Linked DNA regions of Homo sapiens: all the other regions are reported to be linked to region 1. Evidence: microRNA targets listed by miRTarBase, many of them from high-throughput screens and not tested one by one. Region 1 holds a microRNA gene; each other region holds the end of a gene's coding sequence. Distances are from middle to middle.

The links. Region 1 holds the annotated microRNA hsa-miR-6077 (GGGAAGAGCUGUACGGCCUUC, at 2,326-2,346, opposite strand). A microRNA usually pairs through its seed, bases 2 to 8, with sites in the 3' UTR of a target mRNA and lowers its output. Matches are read on the target gene's strand: a 7mer-m8 pairs with bases 2 to 8, a 7mer-A1 pairs with bases 2 to 7 and ends in A, and an 8mer does both.
Region 2: the mRNA of TMEM97 is a reported target of hsa-miR-6077. Seed matches in the 3' UTR shown: 7mer-A1 at 1,359-1,365 and 7mer-A1 at 2,233-2,239.
Region 3: miRTarBase lists GRIN2D as a target of hsa-miR-6077. Seed matches in the 3' UTR shown: 8mer at 1,804-1,811.
Region 4: miRTarBase lists CNTNAP2 as a target of hsa-miR-6077. Seed matches in the 3' UTR shown: 7mer-m8 at 1,371-1,377 and 7mer-A1 at 3,575-3,581.
Region 5: miRTarBase lists NSUN4 as a target of hsa-miR-6077. Seed matches in the 3' UTR shown: 7mer-m8 at 1,567-1,573 and 7mer-m8 at 1,291-1,297.
Region 6: the mRNA of SNX29 is a reported target of hsa-miR-6077. Seed matches in the 3' UTR shown: 7mer-m8 at 84-90.

The regions. Positions count from the first base shown.
Region 1 is chr1:148,386,794-148,390,639 of GRCh38, reverse strand. It overlaps MIR6077 (microRNA 6077), which reads right to left and starts at 2,358; the gene lies at 2,277-2,358. It also overlaps the pseudogene RNVU1-2. RefSeq lists an enhancer at 2,216-3,055.
Region 2 is chr17:28,325,600-28,329,388 of GRCh38, forward strand. It overlaps TMEM97 (transmembrane protein 97), which reads left to right. Exons shown (of 3, transcript NM_014573.3): 2 at 1-48; 3 at 935-3,086. The coding sequence ends at 1,194. IFT20 (intraflagellar transport 20) reads right to left here. Exons shown (of 5, transcript NM_001267776.2): 4 at 3,574-3,677; 5 at 2,727-3,134. The coding sequence ends at 3,053. Among named protein-coding and RNA genes, the nearest start is that of IFT20, 8.0 kb to the right of the region's middle. RefSeq lists an enhancer at 1,570-1,619.
Region 3 is chr19:48,443,377-48,446,376 of GRCh38, reverse strand. It overlaps GRIN2D (glutamate ionotropic receptor NMDA type subunit 2D), which reads right to left. Exons shown (of 14, transcript NM_000836.4): 14 at 1,446-3,000. The coding sequence ends at 2,440. It overlaps GRWD1 (glutamate rich WD repeat containing 1), which reads right to left and starts at 394. Exons shown (of 7, transcript NM_031485.4): 1 at 185-394. The coding sequence starts at 371. RefSeq lists enhancers at 314-403, 564-643, 1,816-2,507.
Region 4 is chr7:148,414,671-148,418,516 of GRCh38, forward strand. It overlaps CNTNAP2 (contactin associated protein 2), which reads left to right. Exons shown (of 24, transcript NM_014141.6): 24 at 747-3,846. The coding sequence ends at 946. All of the region lies in intron 1 of LOC105375554 (a long non-coding RNA gene), which reads right to left. Among named protein-coding and RNA genes, the nearest start is that of C7orf33, 170 kb to the right of the region's middle.
Region 5 is chr1:46,360,615-46,364,379 of GRCh38, reverse strand. NSUN4 (NOP2/Sun RNA methyltransferase 4) reads right to left here. Exons shown (of 6, transcript NM_199044.4): 5 at 3,552-3,676; 6 at 1-2,810. The coding sequence ends at 2,534. Among named protein-coding and RNA genes, the nearest start is that of NSUN4, 22 kb to the right of the region's middle.
Region 6 is chr16:12,568,029-12,571,874 of GRCh38, reverse strand. SNX29 (sorting nexin 29) reads right to left here. Exons shown (of 21, transcript NM_032167.5): 21 at 1-3,369. The coding sequence ends at 3,246. SNX29-AS3 (SNX29 antisense RNA 3) reads left to right here. Exons shown (of 4, transcript XR_007064988.1): 2 at 3,576-3,715. Among named protein-coding and RNA genes, the nearest start is that of SNX29-AS3, 41 kb to the left of the region's middle.

The sequences.
Region 1 (3,846 bases):
CTCTGTCCCCTACATGTCATGGCTAGCCTGTGTCAGTTAAACTCTTTACTGCAATGCCATGGTCTCCGTGAATTGATTTTGTGTGTACAGTGGGCAGGAAGAACCCATCAGGTGGTTACATCTGCAGGATGGTGCCAGTTCTTTCCACAAAGGCTGGTCAGATACCCAGAAAGTATTTCTCCACTACTACCTGGACAATGTGTCTCCCAGTCAGTCTACAGGGAATGGGGTCTGGATCAAGTATTTCACATTCAGCAGTTACTACGCTGTCACCTAATCCCTCATTTTCAATATTTTGCCATGTCTTCCAGTGGCCTAACTGGCCACCATGCCACAGAATCTTTACTTTGTGGTCTCCAAAGAAGAATTCTCCATTTGATGTTTTGTGATTTGAGCAATGGAATAGAATCTGATACTGGTGGGCTGGGGGAGGTCCCCGGACACTGGTAGGATCTCGACCCCAGCTGTGGTGTCCAGGCTCTTGACACCATCTCAAGAATGAGGTCAAGGATGAGTTAGCAAATAGTGAAAGAAGAGATTTATTGCAAAGCAGAAAGTACACACTCAAGAAAGGGGAGTTTGGGCATACCTGAGAGAGAACAATGGGTTCTGGGGTTTCATCTCAATGGGTTTCTTTAACCAAGGAGTGGAATATTGATGAAAATTCCTGGGTAAAGGTGGAGATTTCTCAGAACTGTGGTGCCATCCATTTTTACATCAAATATTGGTCTCAGAACTGTCATGGCACTGGTGGGTGTGTGATTTAGTATGTTAATAAGCGTATAATGAGGGCCTAGGTAAAACCTACGTCAAATCCAGCACCACATTGGGTCCAGTCAGTCTTAGCCAGCTTGGTCCACACCCTGGTTTTTCAGCATCTTATCAGCCCATAGCCTCAAGTCATGTAAATCTGCTGCCTAGAATTTGTTATCCTGTGACCACCCTGTATTATTCCTGTCTCAAATCTACTTGTAAATATTCAAATGGTCTTTGACTTGGGAATTCCAACTTTGCTTACTTCACAGTGTTTCCTGCATTATAATCCCATATAAGAAAAGATGATCCAGACATTTGTTAAGCATCACAAATAAGATGTATCCCAGGTATTTTTGTCAAATTTGGATTATTTTGGTTTTGTCTTTGCAGAATATAAAAAACTAACACGAGGTAAGCAATAAGGTCTGGAGATGGCTGTGCAAAAGATGACAAAGTGCAACACCACATTTGAGAGTGTCCAATCATTTCTTCTGTGGCAGCATATTTTTCCACAATACTGAATTTGGAAAAAAATAAAAATAAAAATAAAAAAAACTACAAGATTCATTAAACTTGACAACTGTTTTTATAACATTACCAGTGATAAAATCAGTAAGGAAGGCTGGTTTGCAGTCATCTGAGAAGCCTCTTTACTTTCATAAATATGGTTTCTCTGTGACATTGAACGGCTTCCAATTTCAAGCGGAATGCTACATTACAAGGATAAGTATGTGAAGAAAACCGGTTTCTTTTGTAGTCCTAAACGTTCTAGTCTGCGAAATAAAAGTCATTATGTGAAGAAGAGTACCCAGGCTCCATCTGGCCACCGAAAGTTTGCTTCACAAGATAGGCTAAGGACCAGCTTCTTTGGGCGAAAACAGATGCCGGGGCGGGAGGGAAAAAGGGAGAGGCAGACGTCACTTCCTCTTGCTGGTTCAGGCAGCGGGTTGGTCGGCTGACTGGCAGAAAGGCAGATGGGGCCTGGGAAAGGCACTGTCGGTGACATCACGGATAGGGCGACTTCTATGTAGATGAGGCAGCGCAGGAGCTGCTGCTTCCCCACCTGCTGCTTCGCCTCGAAGGAGTTCCCGAGCCTTGGGAGCGGGCTCAGGACCGCTGGTCCGGCCGGAGAGTCCCAGCTGTGTGTCAGGGCTAGGAGGGCTGGGGGGTGCGCGGGGCAAGCGACCGTGCGTGTAAAGGGTGAGGCGTACGGGGCGGAGGTGCAGGAGCTCATATTTACTTGGCAGGGGAGATAACATGATCACGAAGGTGGTTTTCCCAGGGCGAGGCTTATCCATTGCACTCCAGATGTGTTGACCCCTGCGATTTCCCCAAATGTGGGAAACTCGATTGCATAATTTGTGGTAGTGGTACTGCGTTCGCGCTTTCCCCTGATTTTTTGTAGTTTCAAGAATACGCTGTACTCTAAGGGCTACTTTTTTCTTTCATTGATTTGTGTCTTGGACGTGTTATTCTTACAGTGGAAGGCTGGGAAATAGGAATTAAGATGTCGCTTCTCCCACTGAGGAGAAATAGGGAGCGTCAGCCTTAACACAAACAAACTAGCGCGAAGGCCGTACAGCTCTTCCCTTTCTACGCAGGGCTGCTTTTTGCAGAGATTGGTCCATGGTCTCCAGTGTCTTGGGTTCTCACGCTCTGTGAAAATCTTCGTGGTTTTCTCTAGCCCCCAGAGTCACCTTTTACACAGCCCCTGCTTCTAACCGCAGCCCCCTCAGGAGTTTGTAGGATTTCTGTGCTAGCGGGGAATGTGTTCTCACCTCATAGAGCCAGGTACAAACTACGCAGACAGGCGCTGTTCTTTGGGATGAAAGCAGGGCCTTTGGGGCTCTTAGTGTCCCCGTTCATTTGCAGACATAACACGCTTACTTTGTGTAGGGGAATGGCTTTCCCGGAGCCCAGGTGCCCTAATGCAATTCGTGGAGGCCCGCAGGTCAGAACCGCAGTCTTACTTGTCTTGGCTGAAATGCGCTGCGATCCTCCCTGAAATATAAGGCAGGAAGTTTTATGAGCAGCGGGGTCCAGTTTCCCTATTATCTCCTGCTGTTTACATATCTAGTCTTTCTTCAGACTTTATTTAAATGACAACTTCTTGTTTGATGTCTCGCTTCCATATCCTACATCCATTGCCAGGCAACTTTTTAGATAGCACCCCGACCCATCCTTCCCACCCCCAAGCAGCCCTTTCCTACTTCTGGCGCCAGTGTCCTTCCCGGTCCGTCTTTCTTCAGGCCCTCCCTTATCACCTTCATGGACAGAAAATACTTAGCTCTCTTTCAACCTGCAGTTTGCACCTGACACGCGTCAGTACCCTGGCAAATTCCTTAATACCCCTTCTCAAATGGCACTGTAAATTCATCTCTTTTTAACTCCCAGAAGTATCTAATTGGTCTTGTCCCTGCATTGCATGAATACTAGTATTCCACTACAAAAGAAAACCCCAGGCCTAGAGATGGCGGTTCTGGGCATTGTGCCAGCATTTCCCAGGGTATGTTTTCTGACCTCACCTACTTCTGATCAACTGAGGTCAGGAGTTCGAGACCAGCCTGACCAACATGACGAAACTCCGTCTCTACTAAAAATACAAAAAAAAAAAAAAAAAAAAAAAAAGCAAAAAAAGCAAAAAAAGCTGGATGTGGTGGTGTGTGTCTGTAATCCTAACTACTGGGGAGGCTGAGGCAGGAAAATCGCTTGAACCCAGGAGGCAGAGGTTGCAGTGAGCTGAGATCATGCCATTGCACCTCAGCCTGAGCGACAGAGCGAGACTCTGTCTCAAAACAAAACAAAACAAAACAACAAAAAAAAACTAGGCCATCTGAGACATATTATTGGAGACAGTAGAATCCTGCATCCAACAGGCACTTGGTGCAGATCTGAACCCACTGAATTATTGGCTCATGTTCCGTCTGTTTTATTAAGTATCATGAGCAGAAATTGAGCTCTTTGGCTTTTACACACTAAGTATGGCTATAGGACAGGTCTCTCTCTCTCTCTCTCTCTCATTATTGTGTCATTATTTTTTGCCATCAGTGTGGGCTTTTGGTTTTGATGTTATGAAGTGAATTTGTATGG
Region 2 (3,789 bases), not on the chromosome of region 1:
TGTTTCAGCTGCCTTTCTTTCCCATTGCAACGTATGCCTTCCTCAAAGGTTGGTAAATGGTGGGAAAATCCCATTTTTACTCAGAAATCAGGTCCCAGAAATCTTTTGGGAAAGTATCTCCAAAGGGAAGGGGATGGTCCCCATAGTTTGTGGGAGAATGCTACAGGATCTGGGGTAAATAGCCAGGGTAGATCTTGTAAAGGGACATTAGTGTGGCTCAGGCTCATGTCTGTGGTCAGCAGGCCTGCACGGCTGCCTCAGTCGTCTGGAAATCCCTTGCATACACATGAAGCCTGAGACCACTTAAACAATGAGCTTGTTCCCTTTTGTTTTGTTCCCCAACAGAATTAATTTCTCTTTTTGTTGGCTTTTATTTCTCTGCGTTGGATAGTATCATACTGACTTATAAGCTGTAGCATCAGGCTAATCCCTAATGTGCTTCTCATTTTAAAATTATTCTTAGTGTTCTCATATAATCAATGCTTTTTTAAAAAGGTGACCATACACGTGTACTTGATAAGCTAAAACCACTGAAAATGCTCGTTTCCCATTGGCACCCCCTGGGGTCACTGAATCTGCCTTCTGATCCTCTCACCTATATATAATTACTGAACAAACAGATGCCATGGGGCAGGGATTTCCCTCCCCTTGGATTTTGTACCACACAGGTTTAACCGGTAATGGCAGTTTTATTGCCCTAGAGCTTTTCCGAGTTATGTTCTGACCCCCATTCTTGGTTCTTTGGCGAGCTGTCGGTGAGCTGTCACGTAAGTCTGCATGTTGGGCAGTGTGGCACATCCAGGTTTCCAGTTCCGAGTTTCCACTTGGAGAAGGGAGTAGAAGAAAGCAGGCAGGCAGAGACAGTGGGAAGGTCATGGACACCTTTGAGTCATGAACAGACCTAACCATTTTTCTTTTCCCCTGACTACCTCAGGAAGCTGCAAGTGGATTCGAACTCCTGCAATCATCTACTCTGTTCACACCATGACAACCTTAATTCCGATACTCTCCACATTTCTGTTTGAGGATTTCTCCAAAGCCAGTGGTTTCAAGGGACAAAGACCTGAGACTTTGCATGAACGGTTAACCCTTGTGTCTGTCTATGCCCCCTACTTACTCATCCCATTCATACTTTTAATTTTCATGTTGCGGAGCCCCTACTACAAGTATGAAGAGAAAAGAAAAAAAAAATGAAGGAAACAACCACTGGCCCAGGGTAGAGATGCCTACAGGGTGGTTGCTTGTTGGATACAATACAAGGAACACTGCTCAGAACCCACGTCTTCAGCAGCATTTGAAACACTGGCAGCAATGCACAAGAGCAAGATGGTGTCAGGAACCATGTCAAACCCTCACCTTCTTCCATTTTTTTTTTTTTTTTAAGACAGTCTCACTCTGTTGCCCAGGCTGGAGTAAAGGGCAGTGGCATGATCTCGGCTCACTGCAACCTCCGCCTCCTGGGCTCAAGCCATCTTCCTTAGCCTCCCAAGTAGCTAGAACTACAGGTGTGTACCAACACGTATGGCTAATTTGTTTTGTTTTTTTTGTGTGTGTGGAGACAGGGTTTTGCCATGTTGCCCAGGTTGGTCTCGAACGCCTAGGCTCAAGTGATCTGCCCACCTCAGTCTCCCTAAGTGCTGGGATTACAGACGTGAACCACTGGGCCCAGCCCAAACCTTCACCTTCTAAGGGCACTGGGATGAACAGACCGATCGGCTTGAGGGTGGGCAAAGGGGTGTGGGCTAGGTTATAAGGAAGTGGTACCAAATAACTGTGTGCCTGAGTTCCACCGCAAGATTACTAAAAGCAGGACCAGACCAGAAACTGCTAAAGAACATGGCCTGTTTGACATGTTCATGAGTCACCTGACCCACAGCATATATGCTTATGACTAAACCCTCCACTCCTGATTCTCAAGAGTGTATCACCTGTCAGCAAAATGAATAGTGGGATATTTTGGGCCATTTTAAATGTGAAATTTTGCCTCTTTAATGTTAATTCAAAACTATATCAATGTTTTCTTGTTCCCACCTCTAACCCAAGGAAAAAAGAGAAAACATACTATGCAAAGGAAGTTTAAACTTAAGTTTTCCTTAAGGGTCAGCCCAACAATGACTTTCAGTCAAATGGATTAAACTGGAAAATGTTTTTGTTTCTGTTGTAAACAGATCATCCTAGGCGAAAGTTTTTTTTGTTTGTTTGCTTTTAAATTAGTTTATTTCTAAATCTTAGTCTTCCACATTTCTAGAGGCCACCTGACACAAGTCCCTGTATCTGAAGTCTAGCATCTCAAGGCTGATCTGGAAGTGTGCTAGTATGCTCCCTAGTGGATAACTTAATCTTTTAATACAGTTCCGTCATTCCCATCTTGTTTTCAGAAGAGAAGGTGGCTACAGCCAGGCATAACATATCCACTGTGTGCATAGAGGGTCTCTTCACGTTGATGCTTGGCATTCCATCAGCTTTCTCTAAGTCTTTGCTCAAGTTCAACCTTAAAATGATGTTAGACAACAGGTCCCAGTCAGTTCCCTCTATTTTCACCCATTTTGCTCACAAGCCATATTGGCCCGATTAGTGGTACTGTCTGACTCACGTGTGTGATCCAAATAAAGGTAGCTGCTGACCACTGCCTGGTTTGTTTTGTGGACTAGGGGATAGAGAATCCAGGGTTCTCTCATGAGGAGTTAAACATATTTCAAGAGCAACAGGAAAAAAGGTACATCAAGCCATTTGAAAACAAAAATTTATTGCTTCTCCTTCCAAAGCTTTGTGAATTTACAAAAAAAAGGATGAAAGTTTACAAACTGCTTAGTTCCAACTAAGCATAAGAGGTGAGAACGTACACTGCAGGGCCACCAGCAGCAGCTGTGCACTGATGTTAAAACTGGCTCCCCCAGACTTGTAGTGCTGTCTTCAGGGGGCTGCATTCCTTACACGCCACCTCTTGTGACATAGGTCATTGGTCAAGCCGCTGGAATGCTACAGAGGTTTTTTTGGTTTTGAGAGGCTTTTTTTTGTTTTGCCTTCCTACTATAAAAGCGAAATTTTCAGTTCATTTCTGAAAAATAAATTGGTCAATAAATTCATTTTGTTCTGCTTCTACTTTACACAAAGCTTCATATTCAACCCGATACCTGAAAAACAAAATTGTTAGAGGCCCTGAAAAAAAGATGAAGTAAACCACAGACCTAATTCTTCTAGAGAAGGATATAGAGGTTTAAATGATTTCAAGAAATGGTGTGAGTTCAGAATGAAGAAAGAAAGAGGCAAAGCCCTACCCAGAGCCACCCATGAGAAATCTCCAGCCCTAGGAAAGTCTTCTTTCAGAGAGCCAGCCAACTTCGTGGACCCTTTCATGCTCAAACTACTAGAGGTGGTTTGATATTAACAAGTTTTCTATTTCCTTCCCATCAAATGTAATTTTATTTTTTAAAATCTTCAAATCAGGATGACAAGTGAGATGCTATTCCTGGGAAAACAATGATGAAGAATAAGGACAAGAAGTGATCATTCCAGAAGGAAGAGTGGAAATTCAGCTGTGTAAAGAACTTGCTTTACATCATGACTTCTTACCTTTCTAGCTGCATTTTCTTTTCTGCTATTAGGGCTTGAAGTTGCTGCTGTTGAGCTTCTCTCTGCTTTGCTATAGATTTGAGCAAGTTCCGAGCACCGATGGCCTACAGTATTGCCAGAGAAGGCCATGGCTTCATTAAAACCATCTACAGCATCAAGTCCTCAAAGTGGGGAGGGGTTATCTGGGAGCTGTGTCAGTCTTCAGAGAGGAAAAGA
Region 3 (3,000 bases), not on the chromosome of region 1:
GGAAGGCGGGGTTTACGAGTTAAGACGGGACAGTAAGAGCTCAGTCCCCACCTCCCTCATGGATCAACCGCCTCCGGTATGAAATCACTTCTCTTAGACCCCAGCCTTCTCTTCCCGAGCACCTCTCAGGTTAAAGGCTCGGGATCAGCCACCTCAGGACCCTGGAGTCCGGACTCAGCCCTACCAGTCTGCGCTCGGTGGTAGAGCACATAGGCCTCCTCGTCCATGACCAGCTCCTCCCCTTCGCGTAGCGGCGGCCCCCGGCCGGGCAGGTAGACCTGGGCCGGGCCCTCGGAACTTGTGTCGCCGGACTCGGCTTCCATGGGTTCCCCGGTTTCACACGTGCGCCGCCGACCCTTGCGCGCCGCCATCTTCGAACCCTCTCGCTGCTGACACCCGGTAAGAGCGTCACTTCCGGGTTTCGCTTTCCGCCTAATGAGATCCGCCCTACTGCGCGGTTACCTTGGAAACTCCTGGGACCGCTAATCGGAGAGGGTGCGGAAACGCTGGAGGAGAACTCAGGTAATGGCGCCAGCGAAAGAAGCCTGCGGATACGGAGAAACTGCATCTTCGCGTGACTTTGGGCGCTGTTCCTCGCGGTAGTGGCAAGGCCTTCTGGGAGTTGTAGTTCTACGGGAGGCTTGTTTTCCCCATTGTCCAGTTTGATTCCGAGAGCGTTCTTTCCAGTTAATTAATTATTCATATATGCAAATTTGCTCTTTCACTGGCAAGGAGACTGAGTTTCTACTCCCCGAGGACCCATAAGGCCGGTTTCTTTTCCTCTCTCTGTTGTGATGGCTTTCATTTGTTTCAAAAATGCTTTCTTGTAGACAGGATGGATATTATCTGTAAGTTAGGCGGTTCAATCTACCCTCTAGGGGCAGTCAATTGCCTAACCAGACATTCACATTTCAGCTCTGGTCAGCGAGCACTTAATCAGAAAGTCCACCCTCTGGAGGCAGCTATTACAAGTGCTTCGTCTCTCTTTATCGCCCATCAGCACCAGCGGTTTGGCTAATTGACATAATGAAATGTTAGAAATAGATTCTCATTGGTGAGATTAACAGCATTCAAGATAATGCGGATTGGCTGGGATATGTCAGACACTCTCCTAGCTTGCATGAACAGGATATTGAGAATGTAGCAAGCCTTGGTACCTATAGCCATAGGAAATAAAACCATACCTTTGATCTTAATATGTTTTGTCTCCGGGATCTATCTCACCACTCTCTTGGGGTCTCTTATCTGCCCCAGTACCCTCTCGACTTTCTTTTCAGGGTCTCTTCCCACCTCCTCTTTCTTGGTCTTTGTCTCCCCAGGCACCTCCTTTCAGAGTCTCTGTTCTCTCTCTAATTCTGTCTCCTCTTCCCCTGTGGGACTTTTGTGTTTCTGTTTCCTCCAGAGAATTTGAGGGGGGCTAACAGATACGGAGCTTAGGCTTGGACTGAGGAGGCATAAAAACATGGTTTATTCCAAACACTGCAATGTGGAATAAGAGAGTGGGAAGGGAAGTTGGTGGAGAAGTGTGGACTCCCAGACCCTCCCCTCCGCAACCCAGCCCCAGACCCGGCTGGAGATCTGGGCAGAGGAGGCTTTTTGGAGGTCTGCTGGGTCATCACTGAAGGGTCGCAAATAAGGGTTGGATTTGGAGAGGATGTGCTTGGTGGCAAGTGGGGTGGTCCGGAGGTGCGGCAGGGTGGGAAGTTTTGGCTTCAGGGAGGTTGGGTTCATCGCGGTGCAAGGGAAGGCGGGGCTTCCGTTGGGGACGTGTCCTAGGTCAGAGTAGGGAAAAGCGACCGAGGGTGGAAGAGGAGGAGGGGGTGTCACGGTTTGATGTCAAGGGTCACAGTCTGGTCGGGGCACAGTCTGGGGTTCGGGTCACAGTTTGGGGTCAGGGGTCACAGTCTGGAGTCGGATGACCATTTTAGGAGTCGGATGTCACAGTCTGGGTCAGGGGTTTCTGTGTGGCGGGGCCAAGGTCTGGGGTCACAGTTTGGCGAACGCGTCTCACAGTTTTGAGTCCCAATGGATGAAAGGTTAAAAACGGGCTTCCCCGGAGGCGCGGCTGGGGCCGGGGAGCTGCACAGTGATGTGGGGGCCACGGCCCCGGGCGTGGAGGTGGGACGCGGGAGTGGCGTGAACCCCCCACCTCCCGCCCCATCTGGTGACGTTAAAAAGCCCTTGTCGGGTTTAAAAAAAAGTCCGGTGGGCTCCAAGGCCCCCGCCCCCTCGTTCTCAGGCTGGGTGATAGTTGAGGGACCAAATCCTCTCCGGCTTGCGGTTCCTCCAGAACCAGGGGGCGCAGGACGCTGCTCCAGGCGGGGTCCGGCCAGTTCCACTGCTTTCCTTCCCAACCCACGCGGGTCCTGTCCACTGCGGGCGCCCCCTCGGGCCGTGGCCTGCGCTGACCAAGGGGGCGGTGGGGCCCCCGGGGCCGCGTCATACCTCGGACTCGAGGCTAGAGAAGTGCGCCGAGCCCCTGCGGGTGCCCAGGTCCCCGCCCCGGTGTCTCCGGTGGGAAGCTGTGGGCAGCGGCGGCCCCCAGTGCGCGGCGTGCGGACACCTGCGAGCGTGGCGGGAGGGCCCGGTAAGCCTGCGCGCAGGGGCGGCGCGAGGGCACGAGCTGAGGTCCTCGAGCGAGCGCGAGGTGGGCGCGGGCGGCGGGAGGTCCCAGCCCCCAGCGGCGCGCCGGTGCCTGTGGTGGTGGGGCGCGGCGGCGGCGGGCGTGCGGTGCGAGGCCCGCGGGCGGTGCGGGTGCGACCGCGGGCACCCGCAGCGGGCCCGGCGTCGGGGCAGGGGCCCGGCGGCCCAGGGTGGAGGCGGTGGCGCCCACCAGCCGCCGTCCAGGCCATCGTGCGAGCAGCTGAGATGGCGCGGCGGCGGCAGCAGCTCCAGGCTGGCGCAGTGCCGACAGTGCCAGGCGGCCGGACCGCTGCGCGGGGGCAGGTAGTCCCAGCTCCCGGCGCGCCAGCCCCCGAGCTTGTCGACCGACCAGTAGCG
Region 4 (3,846 bases), not on the chromosome of region 1:
ACGTTATTTAGATGTGTTTTAAAGCTTTTTCAGGACAGAGCTAGAGTAGTCTTTATTCTAGGCCTATTTTAGCAAACACCTTCAGCATGACCATTCTATCAACTGTATTAAATGCTCTGATTGTTCAATGAGGTCTCTTCAGTGTGGTTGTTGGACTATAAACATCTCCCAGCCCTCCGTGAGCTCTGGTTTTTTGCCTGGCCTGTGGACTTTTATTCTGTACATGCACATGTTAGTATTATTCGGCCACAAATTCAGAGAGACTTATGTGCAGATTATTAGGGTTCTTTCTATACATAGCTCTCTCGCGCGCCCACTCTATCTCCCCTCTCCATTCAGGGAAACCACTGTGCTTTCTTGTGCTGCCCCTCCCTACACTGCTGTCCAAAAATCGCTGCCAGCCAGAAAACTAGGAAAAATGTAGGATTCCTCCTTTTTGTTTCTCTGTTCTCAGACATCATGGTTCCTTTCTGCCTGTTTTCTAATGTCTGTAGACTGTCATTTCATAGACTGTGTCCAGTATTTTAGTTACTTTTGGCTGGAAGACAAGTTACTCCTGTTTTTCCTGTTACTCCTTCATGGACAAAAACAGACATCTTACTTCATTTTTGTTATCTTTGTTGTTTTGGAGGTTGTGTTTTATATGGGAGAGGGCTGTGTCTGACGGAGCTGTAGTGAAGTGGGGACAGTGTTGGAGGGACTCCCAAGCCCTGTCTAACCTCTCGTGCTTCTCCTTTCTCCGTCAGGCGTCATTGCTGTGGTGATTTTCACCATCCTGTGCACCCTGGTCTTCCTGATCCGGTACATGTTCCGCCACAAGGGCACCTACCATACCAACGAAGCAAAGGGGGCGGAGTCGGCAGAGAGCGCGGACGCCGCCATCATGAACAACGACCCCAACTTCACAGAGACCATTGATGAAAGCAAAAAGGAATGGCTCATTTGAGGGGTGGCTACTTGGCTATGGGATAGGGAGGAGGGAATTACTAGGGAGGAGAGAAAGGGACAAAAGCACCCTGCTTCATACTCTTGAGCACATCCTTAAAATATCAGCACAAGTTGGGGGAGGCAGGCAATGGAATATAATGGAATATTCTTGAGACTGATCACAAAAAAAAAAACCTTTTTAATATTTCTTTATAGCTGAGTTTTCCCTTCTGTATCAAAACAAAATAATACAAAAAATGCTTTTAGAGTTTAAGCAATGGTTGAAATTTGTAGGTACTATCTGTCTTATTTTGTGTGTGTTTAGAGGTGTTCTAAAGACCCGTGGTAACAGGGCAAGTTTTCTACGTTTTTAAGAGCCCTTAGAACGTGGGTATTTTTTTTCTTGAGAAAAGCTAATGCACCTACAGATGGCCCCCAACATTCTCTTCCTTTTGCTTCTAGTCAACCTTAATGGGCTGTTACAGAAACTAGTTCGTGTTTATATACTATTTCCTTTGATGTCCTATAAGTCGGAAAAGAAAGGGGCAAAGAGAACCTATTATTTGCCAGTTTTTAAGCAGAGCTCAATCTATGCCAGCTCTCTGGCATCTGGGGTTCCTGACTGATACCAGCAGTTGAAGGAAGAGAGTGCATGGCACCTGGTGTGTAACGACACAATCAGCACAACTGGAGAGAGGCATTAAAGAACCAGGGAAGGTAGTTTGATTTTTCATTGAATTCTACAAGCTAATATTGTTCCACGTATGTAGTCTTAGACCAATAGCTGTAACTATCAGCTGCAATACCATGGTGACCAGCTGTTACAAAAGATTTTTTCCTGTTTTATCTGAAACATACTGGATTTATATATGTATAAGCGCCTCAATGGGGAATTAGAGCCAGATGTTATGATTTGTTTGCTCTTTTTCTTTTATAGTTTAGTTATAGCAAAAATATGGATAATTTCTAGTGAATGCATAAATTAGGTTGCGTTTCTTATTTTGCTTTAAATCTCTGGTAGTTTTTCCACCCCTGTGACACAATCCTAATAGACAGTGTCCTGTAAATGGACACAACACAATAAAGTCAAGTTATTATTGCTGTTACTCTGGATGATATGGAAAACACTGCCATATTTTAAATCAACTACTCCACGTGTTTTTCCATCCAATCACACTGCTGTGATTCAGGGATCTTTCTTCTAAGACGGACACATTTGAACCTCAGGTTCATCACAAACCTGGTACCTGTTGCTTCCCAGAGGATGGAGAAGTGTAGTTAATCACACCTCTTAGTTTAATCTGAAATCTTGACCCAGTTATTTAACAAATAAATACCTCATTGATTATATTTAAAAGTAATACACTTCCTGTAAACAAATGGGGACAATGCATCCAAAAAATCTTTTTAAACAGATTACACAAAAATTATTTCCAGAAAGGCTACCATTTATCATCATTATATTTCAAGCCTCTTATACTTAATAAGCACTTTCTAAAAAGTCTTGAGATCCCACCATTCTGAGGAATTCAATATGATCACTTTTTCCTTCTTTGCCTGGGAGAGGTTAAGAGGAGGTTTCGAAGGTATAGATGCTATTGTTCTGATGGCCCGGCTGAATAAAATGGAAATTCTAGTTTGTTAGAATTATGCATTCTTTTTCAAGATTCTCAGTGTGCCTAACTTATTGGAGCACATCAGTTTCTTGGGTAATGGAAAACATTACCTAGAGTTGCCAGTGGCACATTACACCAGTACAGAGCACATTCCAAAGGAGACATTGGACCAGTTAATTCCCATACAAGTCAAGGTAACAGAACAAAAGGGAATCCTGATGCCCTTTTACCATTGCTGGTTGAGCTCAGGCACTGTCATGGACACCCTTAATTTTAAAAGGTTTTAATCATTCTTCTATAAAATACATTTAAAATGGAAAAATACTTAATATCACTAAATATCAGAACAATGTAACATTTACAAATGACATATTGAAAGCAAAGGCTGTTTTATTTAGCCAAGATGATTACCATTAGGAGTTACTTTATGTATTGTTGAAAGCAAATTTTAAACATGATGTTTTAGAAGTGTTTCTGATTTTTAAACCTGGTTTACAGGTATTACTTCTGCACTTACCAAATAATGCCAGATGGAAATTTATTATTTCTTGCAATTCCCATGATAGCTCTGTTCTTTATGCATTGTCTCAACACTTTCCCTTTTTTCCCAAAATGAGTAGAGAATTAAAGCCACCCAAAACAGCTTCTGCTACTAAAATGTTCTCATCCTTTCTCCTCCCTCTCCTTTTCCTGCCACAAAAGGTGAAAAATGAGATCCAATCCTCTCACCAAAATTTCAAACCTAGGACACTGGAATGACTGCAGGGATCAGTGGTTCTCCCATATCACCATCAATTAAGACATATAGGACACTGTCTTCCTTCAAGAGGGTTACAATGTGGCCATCAGACAGGAAACCAAACGGTGGATAAAGTATTAAGTAACTAAGTGCCAAATAAATGCTGGAAATCTTGACCTCTCCTTGGGATTATGGGTGTAACAAAAATCCCTACATCTGTTTATGAAGGCCATATTCAGTACATTTTAAATGGTAAATAATCTGTTTATGTGAAGAAAAAGAATTAAGTCTTTCTTCCAACTCTCTCCTTGGATAGCCTAGCACAGTGCAGCCTCCATAACCATGACATTCCCGCCCAAGCTCTCAGTGCCTAATCCTGCTTTGTCATTCACATCTCACAAAATCTTGACATCTTACATTCCAATACATTATCAAGCAAGCACAAGTATGCTGGTAGTAGCCTCTTTAAATAATATGTATAGACAACAACAACGACAAAAAATAGACTGTTTTAAAGTTTCAGGGAAAGTTGGTGGCTGATTTAAAGTTGTGCAGGAAACATCT
Region 5 (3,765 bases), 100 Mb from region 1:
AACAGCACATTATAAATCCCAATGCCTTTTTTTTTTTTTTTTTTTTTGAGACAGAGTCTCACTCTGTCACCCTGGCTGGAGTGCAGTGGCACAAAACGGAGTCTCACTCTCTTGCCCAGGCTGCTCACTGCAGCCTCAAACTCCTGTGCTCAAGTGATCCTCCTGCCTCAGCCTCCTGAGTAGCTGGGACCACAGGCACATGCCAGCGCACCCAGCTAATTTTTTTTTTTTTTTTTTTGGTAAAGACCAGGTCTCACTACATTGTCCAAGCTGATCTAGAATTCCTGGGATCAAGTGATCTTCCCACCTTGGCCTCCCAAAGTGTTGAGATTACAGGCGTGAGCCACTGTGCCTAGCCTATTTTCTATTTTCTACATCTTGATGGTGACTATACTATTATATACAATTATCAAAATTTATTAAACAATATATTTAAAATTTATGAACTATATTGTATGTAAAGAATAACTCCATAGAAAAGAAAAAACCTTTCATTTAGAAAGGGCATCATGCTACATTTACTCTTCTGGGATTAAACTTTTTTCACTTAATTATTTTATTGCTCAGATTCATCCATATGGTTAGGTATCATTATAGTTCATTTGACAATTGTATAATGTTCTATTATGTGAATATTCCAGTTTACTTGTCCACTCTCTTGCTCATGGGCATCTGGGTTATTTCTAGGCTTTTGCTTTTGTGAATAGGGTTGCTATGAATATTCTTGTACACATCTCCTGGTGTACATGTATGAGTTTCTCTAGGATTTATCCCCAGTATTGGATTAACTGGGTTATAGGGTAGCTGAATGTTCAATTACAGCAGATAAACTGTTTTCCAAAGTAGTTCTCTGCTTTTCTTATCTAGGTCTGCCTGTCCCCAATTAGATGATGACTCTAGAGGCAGGGGACCCTCTCATTTTGAATTACCACTGCTTAGCATTCAATTAGCACTAGGCTGGATATCCAGGAGTCCAAGGGCAGAAGCCCAGGCACCTGAGGCCTCTTAGCCTCAGCGAATACTAAGTACTATACAGAGTGAACAGCATGCAGGGACCATATGCCACGCACGGAGGCGGTTACGGTCCTACTCAGAGCACTAGCCATGCTCCTTAAAGCTCCATCTTCCTAGCTTCACCTGATTTTGAGTCTCAGAGATCTTCCAGGGCCCTCAATTACAATGCAAATCCCAAAAGAAGGCTTAACCTCAGCTAAAGTCCCTCCTCAACTGACACCTCTAATACCCAAATAAGGATGAGCAGGAAAGACAGAAGGGACAAAAAGAGTGGCAGGAAGAGGAGGAATAAGGAAAGTGGAAAAGCCAAGAAGCCTTCAGGTATTCTAAAATTATATACCCTTTTCTGCACAGGATGTTTTCCAGGAAAAAAAAAAAAAGTTTAAAAATAAAATATCTGCAAGTGACCCTGAGCAATTTTTTATATCCCTGCCACTAAAGGTTACTTTCTTTTGGCTAAAGTTACAAAAACAACATATCGAGTATGCAGTCAGTAAATGATGAAATCTTGCCCTGAACACAGTGTGTGCAGTGAAGCCCTGTGATGCTGAGGGAAGAGTTAGGGATTAGGGGGTGGGCCAAAGAACAGGCACCAGAGCTCAGCTGCAGACTAGAAACAACAAAAAGTCTGGAATCCAACAAAACAAAACATCAGGAAATTCCTAGGTGTTCAGAAAGCAAAAGGAGAGTTACCATTCTAAAGGATGAGGAAGCCCAGTAATCTCCCACAATCCCAACTGCTACATCTCCAAGAGCTCCCTAGCTACCTGTCATACACGAGGTCTGGGAATACCTGCTAGATGAATGAACAAAGAACAAGGCACGCACAAGAGTATGACGGTTTTGTGGCAGAAGCAGCCTCCTAAGCCACATTTGGGCAGCAGTATTGTTGACAGCAGGAATGGCCAGAATTATTCAGCTCAGAGGGTTTTTCCAATGTGAGTAGGTAAGCAGATTATTTTGCACTGGCTTAACATTTTTAGTTACTTGTTCCTTAAATTAGATCATGAGCCATATGGAAAAACCAGGCGGGCTTAATTGAGCCTGTTGGCTGCTCAAGACTGGTCAGGTGGAACTCACTTCAAGGGTGACAGGGGCTCAGTAACTGGCTGGTACAAATGGAACTAATGGCATTTGCACTGACATGAAGTCCCCAACTGCAGCCCCAGGTCTATAGAGTTTCAACAACTTTATTGGCCAAATGCTTCTCCTATGTTTACAACTTAGTGTGAGCCTGCTCACTGGCTTCTCCTTCTAAGCCCCTAAGCGGGCAGCAAACTTTAGTACAGGCCTGGAGATGGGGTAGGGGTTAATGAGTGAGTTGGAAACCTGCTGATGCTCCACAATTGGACAGCAGGACAGCAAATCTTCTACTTCTTATTGCCGAAAACTGCAGAAAGACACGAACAGGATGGAGACAGGACCGAGAGTGCATCTCTGCCACTGGTCCCAGTTTCCAGTTTCTGGTGCATCCAACAGAGTATACCCTTTGTATTCTTGCTTCAGGGATTGGGTGATACTATGTCAGCCTACGCATTTTGCAGAAGTACATGGGGCCAAAATTGGCCATGAGGTTTGGTATTACCAGCTCCCCAACCTGACAGGATGAGAAGAAACAAAATGTGTCCATGAAAACCCTTCGGAAGTGAGTCAGATCTTCCACCTGTACCTGGATGCTGTATTGATTGGCCAGGAGCTCAATGGCACCTTGCACCACATACTCGTTCTGTAAGTGTGAGAGTGAGCAGGTAGAATAGACAACATGGCCTCCTGGTTTGGTGGCAAGGAGTCCAGCCCTGAAACCAGAAAGAGACAGAAGCAGTTACTAGTGAGCTTCCCAGCAGTAGAAGAGCAACATAAGGAGCTGGAAACATGGATAAGGGAAGGCTACTACAGGATGGGTAGCTGGTTAGACTGCCTCTCAAGTCCCTTCCACAATGACACTGTCTGAAAAGTCACTCTCAAGGCAGATAGCAACCCAACCTTACTCCATGAGCTCTTCACTAGGAAGTCTCCTTACAATGACCCCCTGAGCTCTTGTTTATGGACCAAATTGCTATGCTGGCTATAGAATGAGTCCTTACTCTAGCAGCTATTTTTCAAACATGTGCTACTCACTGGTACTGAGGATGAAATAGCATGAGTCAATCTGTGCAGCCCACTCTAGTATATATATCCTACTAGATAGGGTTGCTTTTTTGTTTTTGTTTTTGTTTTTTGAGACAGAGTCTTGCTCTGTTACCCAGGCTGGAGTGCAGTGGCACGATCTCAGCTCACTGCAGCCTCCACCTCCTAGGTTCAAGTGATTCTCCTCCCTCAGCCCCCTGAGTAGCTGGGACTACAGGTGTGCATCTCCACACCCAGCTAATTCAAATAGGGTTTTTATGTTCCAGAGATGATCCCATTTCTGTCTCCTCTAGGCAGATCTCCAGCCATAAGATTCTTGTGTGGGTTATGGTCTTGGTAAGAGCTTCCAGTCCCCCAGTCTCCCAGAGCACTCTGGCACAAAGTCCTGAGTTTAAAAATCTGTCACTCACGCAAGAAGCTGCACTTGCAGCACAGGCAATATCTGTCGCTCCTTCTTCCTTGACCGCTTAAAGATGTTGTTCTCCTCCTCATGAAGGGAGTGGCGGTCTGTGGTACAGGGCACATCCACCAGCACCTACCCAGAGTGTTAAAGGGTAAAGTATTAAAGATCCTTATAGGCTTCTCTTCCTTAGGCCAGAGATGTTTTAGGCCCCTGGCCTAAGT
Region 6 (3,846 bases), not on the chromosome of region 1:
ACTCTAAAATGCCTTGCCAGCAACGTGATTGGAGCATACTGCTAAGTGGGAATCAAAGAAGCTGGAATTTCACACTGATTGCAGGAAGAGTGGCGGAGAAGGTTCTGTCTCAGATCAGGAGTGGATGGTTGGGCTAGGTTTCTAGCAGCCTTTAAGCTCCCTCCCTTAGAAGCTTTTGTTGTCTCTCAAGGAGAGACACCTCTGCCCAGCCCTACCGTTCCTGAGTCGTCTTTCATCTGGGGGAGAAAAAAAGATGTGAAAGATGGAACCTGCTGTTCTGTTTCAGCACAGCAGGCCATGAAGACAGAAGGATTCGGTGTGGATTCTTCCTCCCAGCAAAGGGTGGTCCCAGGAATCCAAGGCCCTTGAGAGGTGGGCCACCCTCGTTCCTCTCTGAGTAGGGGAGGGGGCTTCTGTTCTCAGATGTTGTTTGAAAATCTCCGAGTAATCTTAGAAGAAGACAGATGTGAGGTGCAAGCAATCCTTTCCTCAGGGGTGTCTTCGCCACTCATGGATAAGGTCGTGGCTTAGCCCTCAGAATTGAATCCAGGCTGACAGGCAGTTGACACATTTCCAGGGTGTGGAATTTGGGCACCAGGTTTCAGCCACAATTCTGCTAGGCCTGGGTGTTTCTGCTCCATAACTCCAGGAACTGGGAACCCTGCCAGTTGTTTGTTGCCTGAAGTTCATCCCACCACACTAGAGAGCAGGACGGGATTCTTCTGAGCAGCAAGATGGACCCAATCATTGCAGAACATTCTATGGGATTCCAAAGGGAAGGCTTCGGGGAGTTGCTGTCATGTGCGGGCCACCAGCATTTTTAGAGTGAGAATGAGAGGAGATGGTCTGGATCTGCGAGATGACTCGACTCTACGGTCTGTGCATGATCATGGGGGAGGTACCAGGAGCAGGCAGCTGGGGATGGTCCCCATGTGGCTCCCAGGAACATGCTCTCATTTTGGAGAGCAGACCAGGTTTTTTGTGAATAATTCAGTATTATAAAAGTAGGAGGCAGTTTCTCCCACCAGTTCAATACCAGCTGAGAGCATACTTGTTTCTCACGGGTTAGTATCTCTCAGCAATGGGGGACTGTTGCATTATTATCATGTGCAGAATGTCCAAGGTGCTTCCTCGTGGGGTATCTGGAGAGAGACCAATTCACATCCTGTGCTTTGGGGGCAGGTGTCAGAAAAGGTGCAGGTCATAAGCCTGGGCCCAAGGGAATGTCACAGATGGGGGAGGTTCCTTTATCCAACAGAGAACAGGGAGATGACCTCCAGGGTAGCTACCCAGGCCAGGGAGGCACTCCTGAGACAGTCTCTGAGCTGGCATCAAACACCTACTTCAAAATGACCGATGTGGCATAAACCCAACCTAAGGGGTCATGACATACAGCAGATTGAGCTTTTAGACGTTTCCTGCCTCAGTCCATTAGGGCTCTCTATTTAGAGTTGCCAGTCATGTGAGCTGATGTGCACTCTGGCCTTGGAATTTCAGATAAACCATGTGTATTGCAGCAATGTTGGCAGGTGAGTGGGAGGGAGACCAAGTTGCCTTTACAGGATGTCTCGGGTCCTCCACACTCGCAAACTGACTGCAGGGTCCGCACCTCCATACATGCTCCAGCTCATTTGGTCTCACCGGGGCAGGGCTTATCTGGCCCCAGGTCCCCTTGGAAGTCATGTAGGCTGACTCGGTTTCTCTGGGGTGGGGGGGCGCTGTGTGTGAGTGATCTCAGCCTTCCTTAAAGGCCATGAACAATCTTCCTTTTTGCTACGAGGGGAAGGCACAGTATAAACCTTCCAGATGATTCTCCAGAGATGTCCTCGAGCCTAGGAGATGCTCCATGCTCACCTGGGCAGTTCTCATTTTAAGCCACTGAGTTGAAGCAGTTCCAGGACAAGCCCATGGCTTACCATCTAACCGTCACCTTCCACCTGCTTTTCTCCTCAGGTTCTGCTGTGTCTCTGCCTCAGATTAAGGCGAAACACACAAACTTACTCTTGCATAGTCCATTTCACGACATCCTTCCTAGTTAGTTTACCCTAGAAATGCAAACTGCCACAACTTTGCTGAGCATCTGAGGACGGCTATTGCTCTGTGAGGTGCTCTGATGTGAGCTCACTGGAGGAGGAGCCCTGGGGGCTGCCCAGCTGCTGGTCCCCATCCTCCTCTCCACCTGCCAAGGTCCCTGTACTCTGAGAGCCACCTGACATGGGAGGAACAGAGGACTCTGTCTTAGGGGATGCAGAGTTCTGTTATCAAGGACAATGTCGGGGGCAGACGGGATGGAAAATGTTTTTAGTGGAGAGACACATGATCTGTTAAGTGTCCACACTGGGTCCAACTTCATAGTCATGGAGCCTGGTTTGAAAACCCTGGAACCTTCTGCAGTGGTTCCCTGACCCAAGTCTCTCATGACTGTAGGGCCAATGCTACTTTGGACACGCTGGATGACGCCGGGTTACTAGGTTGCTGCTGATGGCTGGGCCAGATGTCTGAGTCCCCCCACTCCAAGCCTGGCGAGGGCCTAGGTGGCCTCAGGCTATGGAGGGCACTGGTCCTTCCTGAAGCCAGCCATGGGGGAGGTAGGGGAAGTTCTCTGAACTCAAGTTGCACATCACTAATGGCTCCTTGCCAAAGCCACAGGAATATCCCTCTGGAAAAGTGAGCTGTGACAGTGCCAGGTGTCTAATGACTGTTGGTGGAAAATGCAGTGAAAGGAACCATGCCCCCCCCCCCCCCCCCCCCCGCAAAGCCAGCCATCCCTAGGTTAGGCCAGGTAATAACCTTAAAAAGCAAAAGGAGAGGCTAATAGTCATTCTAGTCCCCACGTGGGAAAGAGTGGAGAGGCTGGCTCTGCATGAACCTTCCTATATAGGGGATCACCTTTGCCTCTCAACCATGGCGCACCCAGCCTGACCTGGTGCCCACCCTCCTGCCAGCCCTGAACTACAGAAAGGTGGAGGAACAGCCCTTGCAGCCCAGGGTAGACCCCAGAAGCAGAAGGACTGTGTGTCCCAGTCTCTCCAGCGAGGTGCTGCCTTGGTCTCTCGGGTCACGGTATCATGCGGCTCGAAGACTGATTAGTTTAATCGGGGTGTTGTGTAACTGTTGGGAATCGTGTGCTCTCAGGATCACCAGGTGGACGTGGTTGTCACGCTGAGGTGAGGGGCCAGCGGCAGTGGCTGGGGTGGACGCAGCTGGTGCCACGCACAGGGCCCGTGGCTGCGGTTTTGTCGAGGTCAGAGGTCACCGCTCTGGGGCTCCACGTTGCGGGTCTCCCGGGGCTGACCCCGGGACAGTTTGGGGAAGCGGGAAGCTGCTTTGGGCCGGCTGTTCACAGGCTCTCCGGGCGGGGTGATGTCGCTGAAAGAGCAGGGAGAGAATCGGGTTAAGTCTGGGGATGAAAAGCAAATGACCACAGGCCAGGAAGGGGAGCCAGGTGTGAGGGCAGGAGGGATCTGATTGGCAACTGTGACTGGCTCATTGGATCTGCCTCTAACTGGTGCCACCTGAAGAAATGAGAAACCCCTATTGTCACGTAAACCTTTCCATTTTTTTTTTTTTAACAGCACTCCGAGGCTCCAACCAAGCTTGGCTGTGAGTCTGAGCTAGCTCATGGTACCACCGTTCCGGTCTACATTTTAAGGCTATGAAAGAATGTTCTAGGCACAGCTTTCTTCCCCACATTTTCCTTGATTTTCCAGCAAAGGTACGCTTCTAAGTCCAAGGCAACTTTGGAGAACACTACATAAAGCCACACAAGATGCGTAGCAAAACACAGGAGACGGACTTCCTGTGGAATTAATCCTAAGAAAATAATCAGGCCCTAGGCTAGGGGCT